Regions from separate parts of the Homo sapiens genome. Here region 2 is linked to region 1. A link means that fine-mapping ties the variant in region 1 to the expression of a gene that starts in the linked region. Tissue or cell type: whole blood. Region 1 holds a variant in brackets; the other region holds the start of a gene. All regions are shown on one strand. Distances are between the middles of the regions.

What was found. PIP is the estimated chance that this variant, and not a neighbour inherited with it, causes the effect.
Region 2: TSPAN13 starts here. The variant in region 1 is fine-mapped to the expression of TSPAN13 in whole blood (TOPMed, PIP 0.94).

Annotation. Positions count from the first base shown.
Region 1 is chr7:16,643,519-16,646,277 of GRCh38, forward strand. It overlaps ANKMY2 (ankyrin repeat and MYND domain containing 2), which reads right to left and starts at 2,236. Exons shown (of 10, transcript NM_020319.3): 1 at 1,989-2,236. The coding sequence starts at 2,055. BZW2 (basic leucine zipper and W2 domains 2) reads left to right here and starts at 2,663. Exons shown (of 12, transcript NM_014038.3): 1 at 2,663-2,759. RefSeq lists an enhancer at 2,363-2,642. The variant G/C (reference allele first, on the strand shown) is at 1,104.
Region 2 is chr7:16,752,528-16,755,156 of GRCh38, forward strand. TSPAN13 (tetraspanin 13) reads left to right here and starts at 1,228. Exons shown (of 6, transcript NM_014399.4): 1 at 1,228-1,503. The coding sequence starts at 1,441.

The DNA.
Region 1 (2,759 bases):
GAAAGCATCAGTGCACTCATGCAACTTGATGCACCGTGTGAGCCCAGAAATATCACAGCACTAACCAGAATAAATGCACATTAATTCAGGTTTATATAATCTTCAAAATAAATACTGATGGACACCTGAGAATGTATCCAAGGAATCCCTTCTCCCCTCTCAAAGACTCAATTTATAAAACTGCTCACTATTTTTCACTTTTAAGAGATCACATGATGGGCCAGGCCCAGTGGCTCATGCCTGTAATCCCAGCACTTAGGGAGGCCGAGGCAGGAGGATCACTTGAGCCCAGGAGTTCGAGAGCAGCCTGGGCAACATAGGGAGACCCCCACCACCCCATCTCTACAAAAAAAAAAAAAAAATCTTTCTAAAGTAGCCGGGCATGGTGGCTCGCACCTGTAGTCCCAGCCACTAGGGAGGTGGAGGCTGCAGAGAGCTGCAACTCCAGCCTGGGTGAAGAGTGAGATCCTGTCTCAAACAAACGAGAGAGAGAGAGAAAGAGACAGCGAGAGCGAGAGAGAGAGAGGACATGTACTAGCTCTGTCCTGCCTAAAAGAATTTTTGTCCCTGGTGGATTGTGAATTGATCCTTTGTCTCCTTTTTGCCCAGCACAGTACCTGGCACACAGCTAGAACTTGCATGTTTGCTTAATTGAATCCCAGAGCCATCAAAGGCAGGGAGAAATTACCTAGAGACAGGAAGAACTGAAAGACTGAAATGCCAAATAGGTCAGCAAGAACCATGCAGTACAACAATCTAAACTCTAACCCAAATCCCCAAATTCCAGGCAAAGAACACATCATTGATAGATATAGCTGTGACTGACTTAGAATAGTTGAGATCAGATCGGGTGGGCTCAGCTCATCAGCACCTGTTGAGTTCAAACCGGAATTTTTTCTCCTTCGCATGTGGAGTTTCCTTGTCGCTATGAAGAATAAATCTGCCTTATTCTCTAGGATTCCACATTTCAGCCTGGCTACTAAGTAAATAAAACTGGAAACTGGGAAGCCTTATGCTGCAATGACTGGCATCTCTGCCATTCGAGGACAAACATGGCTATATTATTATTGAGTTTAAAATCACCACATTAATTGCCCGGAGTC[G/C]CACGCATCACCATCCCTGCACCGTGAGGGTGCAGAAGAAGCATGCAGTCACGCTGATGTCACCTGCCAGGTAACGGGACTCGGCAGGGAACTCCTCTGGGACGTCCACTCGGGGACTCCGGGGAAATATGGCTTCTGGCTCGTCCTCGGGGCTCCCCGCTGGGACTCAGCACTGCGGAAGTGGGGCACGCCTTGGGGGAGTGGACAAGAAAGCGCGAAGGAGCGCGATTAGAAGGTCTCATCTGTGCAACGTGGGCCGAGGGGTGGGTGTGGAGGCCTCGCCAATTTCCTTGTCTCTCTAGGGTTCCTGAGGCTGTCGGGGCTTCTGGAAGCCAGGGAGGCCCTGGATACGGAAGTCTCAATGCAGCAAATTACAGACCTAGTTCTGTACCCTTATGAAGAACCCCTCTCCCTAAGGGCGCCCTCCACTCCCAAGCGGGGGCGGGGATCGGCAAAGGATCCAGATCATTCGGCCTGCGGAAGTCTAAAGGGTCATTTAGACACCCGCCTAAGAACCTGAAACTACCAGGACTGACCGCGGTCAAAATCCCTCGGGAGCAGTGAAGAATTCACACACTGGGGTCCACACCCCGGGAAGCTCGCATTAACCTAAGGCGGGGCGTGGAAATCCGTACGTTTCCAAAAGCGGATTTAGAGGCCGAGCCTCTGTAACTACCCCTCTTGTCCCAGCACTGCTTCTGCCTCCCCACCTCTCCGCCCCTGCAACCTTTCCCAGACCAAAGGGAGAAACGCTCTTTCCCGGTTCCAGGCTGCAAACCTTGCAGAACCGCAGCCAAAGGTCACCCAGGCCAGGAGCGCCCCCCGGGCTCCGCCACGCCCCCCGGCCAGGCTGGCCGCGGCCGCGTCGCAGCCCAGCACCCGTACCTTTCCCGATGACTTCCAGTAGCTCCTTCTCCTCCTGGGTCAGCTCGCCTTTCTTTATGTGAACCATTGCTCCCGCCAGCTTGAAGGTTATTCCCTTTCTTAGGGAGTATTAAAAAAGAAACGATGCGTCTGTATTGGGAACGCCAGCCGCAATGAGGCAACTTGAGACCAAGACACTGAGTAGCCAACCGCGGAAACGCTTCGCTTCTCTCCTCCCTCCCGCGGGCTGGCGGACAGCGGGCGAGCTCGGGCGAGCCAGGCGGACGGTCTCCGCAGGCCCTGCGGCGGTCACCGCCTGCCGCCTGTCATTGGCCCTGCCGAGGAGGAGGAGCCGCAGGAGGCGGTAGCGAGAGATCGCCATTGGAGCAACCTGGGAGGACAAAACCAAATGCAGAAAGCTGGAGGGGGGAATTAAATTCCTCCTACACGTTCCGCTCCCCTATCCTGTCCGGTTCAAATATTTCGCCACATGTAATATTGAAAATTCTACAGCTGGCAGTTATGTGCTCAGCGACGGCTTTCTGGGGCATGCAGAGGCCCCAGGTTGTCGCCGTACCCCCACCATTCCCCCGGGAGTGGCGCAGTCTGGGCGGGGGCGGTCTAGGAGACGGGGGCGGTACGGGAGGCGGGGCTGCGCCGGGTTCCGTGTGTCTATGTCAATGTGTCTGTCCTTCACTCCTCCATTGTCTGCCGCCACTGCTGCTGCTGCTGCTGCTGCCGCTGCTGCTGCACGAATCGCCGCAGCCCCCAGCCTTGCGCGTCGTCGCTACC
Region 2 (2,629 bases), 110 kb after region 1:
AACCTTTATTGCCTTCGCTTAGTGCCTGGAACACAGTAGGCCTTTACAAAATGTCAGATCTATGAATACTAGCTGACATTTATTGAGGCCTTCCCCTGTGCCAGCCACTATGCAAAAAGTGCTTGACATACTTCTAAAATCTCAATTTATAGGTGAGGAATTAAGGATACAAGATGCATTTCTATAGTAGAGAAGCAGTAAACTGATAATGAATTAATTGAGGTGAAGTCTGAGTTATTTGAAGATTTTCAGTTATTTTTGTGAAAAAATAAGTTTATTGAAATTCACGACCAGAACACAAAAATAATCTCTCTTGATTTTCTTTTTAAAATTTTTTAAAAAACTTTTGTTGACACGTAGCAGATGTATATATTTACGGGGTACATGAGATGTTTTGATACAGGCATGCAATGTGAAATAAGCACATCACGGAGAATAGGGTATCCATCCTCTGAAACATTTATCCTTTGAGTTACAAACAATCCAATTACATTCTTTAAGTTATTTTAAAATACACAATTAAGTTCTTATTAACGATTGTCACTTTATTGTGCTATCAAATAGTAGGTCTTATTCATTCTTTCTATTTTTTTGGACCTATTAACCATCCCCACCTTCTCCCGCTCTTGATTTTCCTTTGCATGCATGTATTCATAAAGTTTATTAGTATTTTGCAAATCTTTGTAGGATAAGTCTGACCTGTCCAGGTCACAATTATAGGGCACATATCTTATTTTCTGAGAGAAGCAGGGATTTTATTTTATTTTTTATTGTTTCACTTATTTTCTCCCTTTCATTTGCCTCTACTTCGTTCTCTTTTAAATCTTTCACATGTTTTCATTCATTACTTGCTTCCTGCCTTCCTTCCCTCAAACAAGGCCAGGTGCTTAGTTTTGAAATCTCATTCAAAATGGTGCCACGTCATCTGCCAGGGCCAAGAATCCAGAGGTGCTGTCATATTTCTCCTTGCCAGCGTGGATCTCCTCCGAGCCCCGCCCTCCCTCCTCACCTGCTCCTGGGGAAACTACACCAAGGCCGCCGCTCTGGCCTGGGGCTCCCTCCCACACGGCCTTGGCCCTCTCCCCCTCGCCCCGGGACCGCTCCGCCCCTCCCGGATCCCGGTCGGCGGAGCGCATTTATTTGCATATTTCTACCTTTGTTCCCTGCCAGCGGCCAATCAGCGCGCGGGGCGAGACGAAGGGGCTGGGCGGGGCTCGGGCTCCTGCTCCGGCTCAGCTGCGGCGGCCGCAGGTTCCAAAGCGGGTCCGAGCCGCCGCCGCGCGCGCGCCGCGCACTGCAGCCCCAGGCCCCGGCCCCCCACCCACGTCTGCGTTGCTGCCCCGCCTGGGCCAGGCCCCAAAGGCAAGGACAAAGCAGCTGTCAGGGAACCTCCGCCGGAGTCGAATTTACGTGCAGCTGCCGGCAACCACAGGTTCCAAGATGGTTTGCGGGGGCTTCGCGTGTTCCAAGAACTGCCTGTGCGCCCTCAACCTGCTTTACACCGTGAGTATCCCCAGTCCGTTCCTGCTCGCTTGGGGGCTTTGCACCTGCTTGGGAGCTCTTTGGCTTCCCTGCCTGGTCAGCGACTCACTCGTTGCATCCCGCGCCCCCTTCCCGGCTTCCCACGTCTGCGCGCCCCCGGCCTCACCATCCGTCCCCGCCGGGGACCGGGCGCCGGCGCTTGTCGCAGTCTCTTCCTTTCGTTCATTGTGAAGCCGCGGTCTCTCAGGCTCGCTGGCCGCGTCTCTGCCACATTGCTCCACCCCGCCCCCTCACCCACCGCCTTGTTTTTCAAACATTCAACCGGACCTCTCCGCTTTCCCACCCCGTACCCTTCTGCCGCTCGCTCCTGACATCCAGACGCATCTGGGCCAGGCGTGGAGGCGCGAGAGCCGTCAGGGCTTGCGGACAGTTTTGCGGAATGGCGTGGCCTGAAACTGACGAGGCGGCATATGGCTGGTGTGCCTCTGGGTTAGCTCTTGGTACCCTCGGGATTTTAATTGAGGCCACTGAGTAGGTTCACAGGATGTCCGCTGCTTCCGAAGTTTGTTTCGTGCTCACAGTAAAGGGATGTCTTTTTGTTTTTGTTGTTGTCAGTTTTGCTAGTACTTGGTGCTTTTTCTGTGTGTCTTGTCCATGATCAATATCCTAACTCCATTTTAAACCAAGTCCTCCAGGAAATAAGCGAGCCCCCACCCAAGTCGTTTCTTTCCCTGCCAACCAGCTTGGGCCTCTTAGTTTTAACGCTGCAGGCTCTCTTTGTGATTTTTTGAGGCGCAATTCTGGGTGAACAGGAGGATGGGCAGGACAGATCGACATTTATTGAATGCCTATCACGTCCCAGGTTTTACATACACAATGCTCGTTCATCATTCTGACAACCTTCTGAGGGAATGGGGCATTATCTGCATTTTATACATAAGGTAACAGACCAAAAAGGTTTTAGTAAGTTTACATAGCTGGTAGTTGACGAGTCAGGAGTGGAACCTAGGCTGTGGAATCCAGATCTTTCCACAGGCTGTCTCTACCGGGCGGAAGAAACTTCCTCTTCTGTCATCATCCCTCCATAGTAGTCTTGCTCCCTTCTATAAATATACCTGGCGCTTTGCAGCACCCACCCTGAAAACAA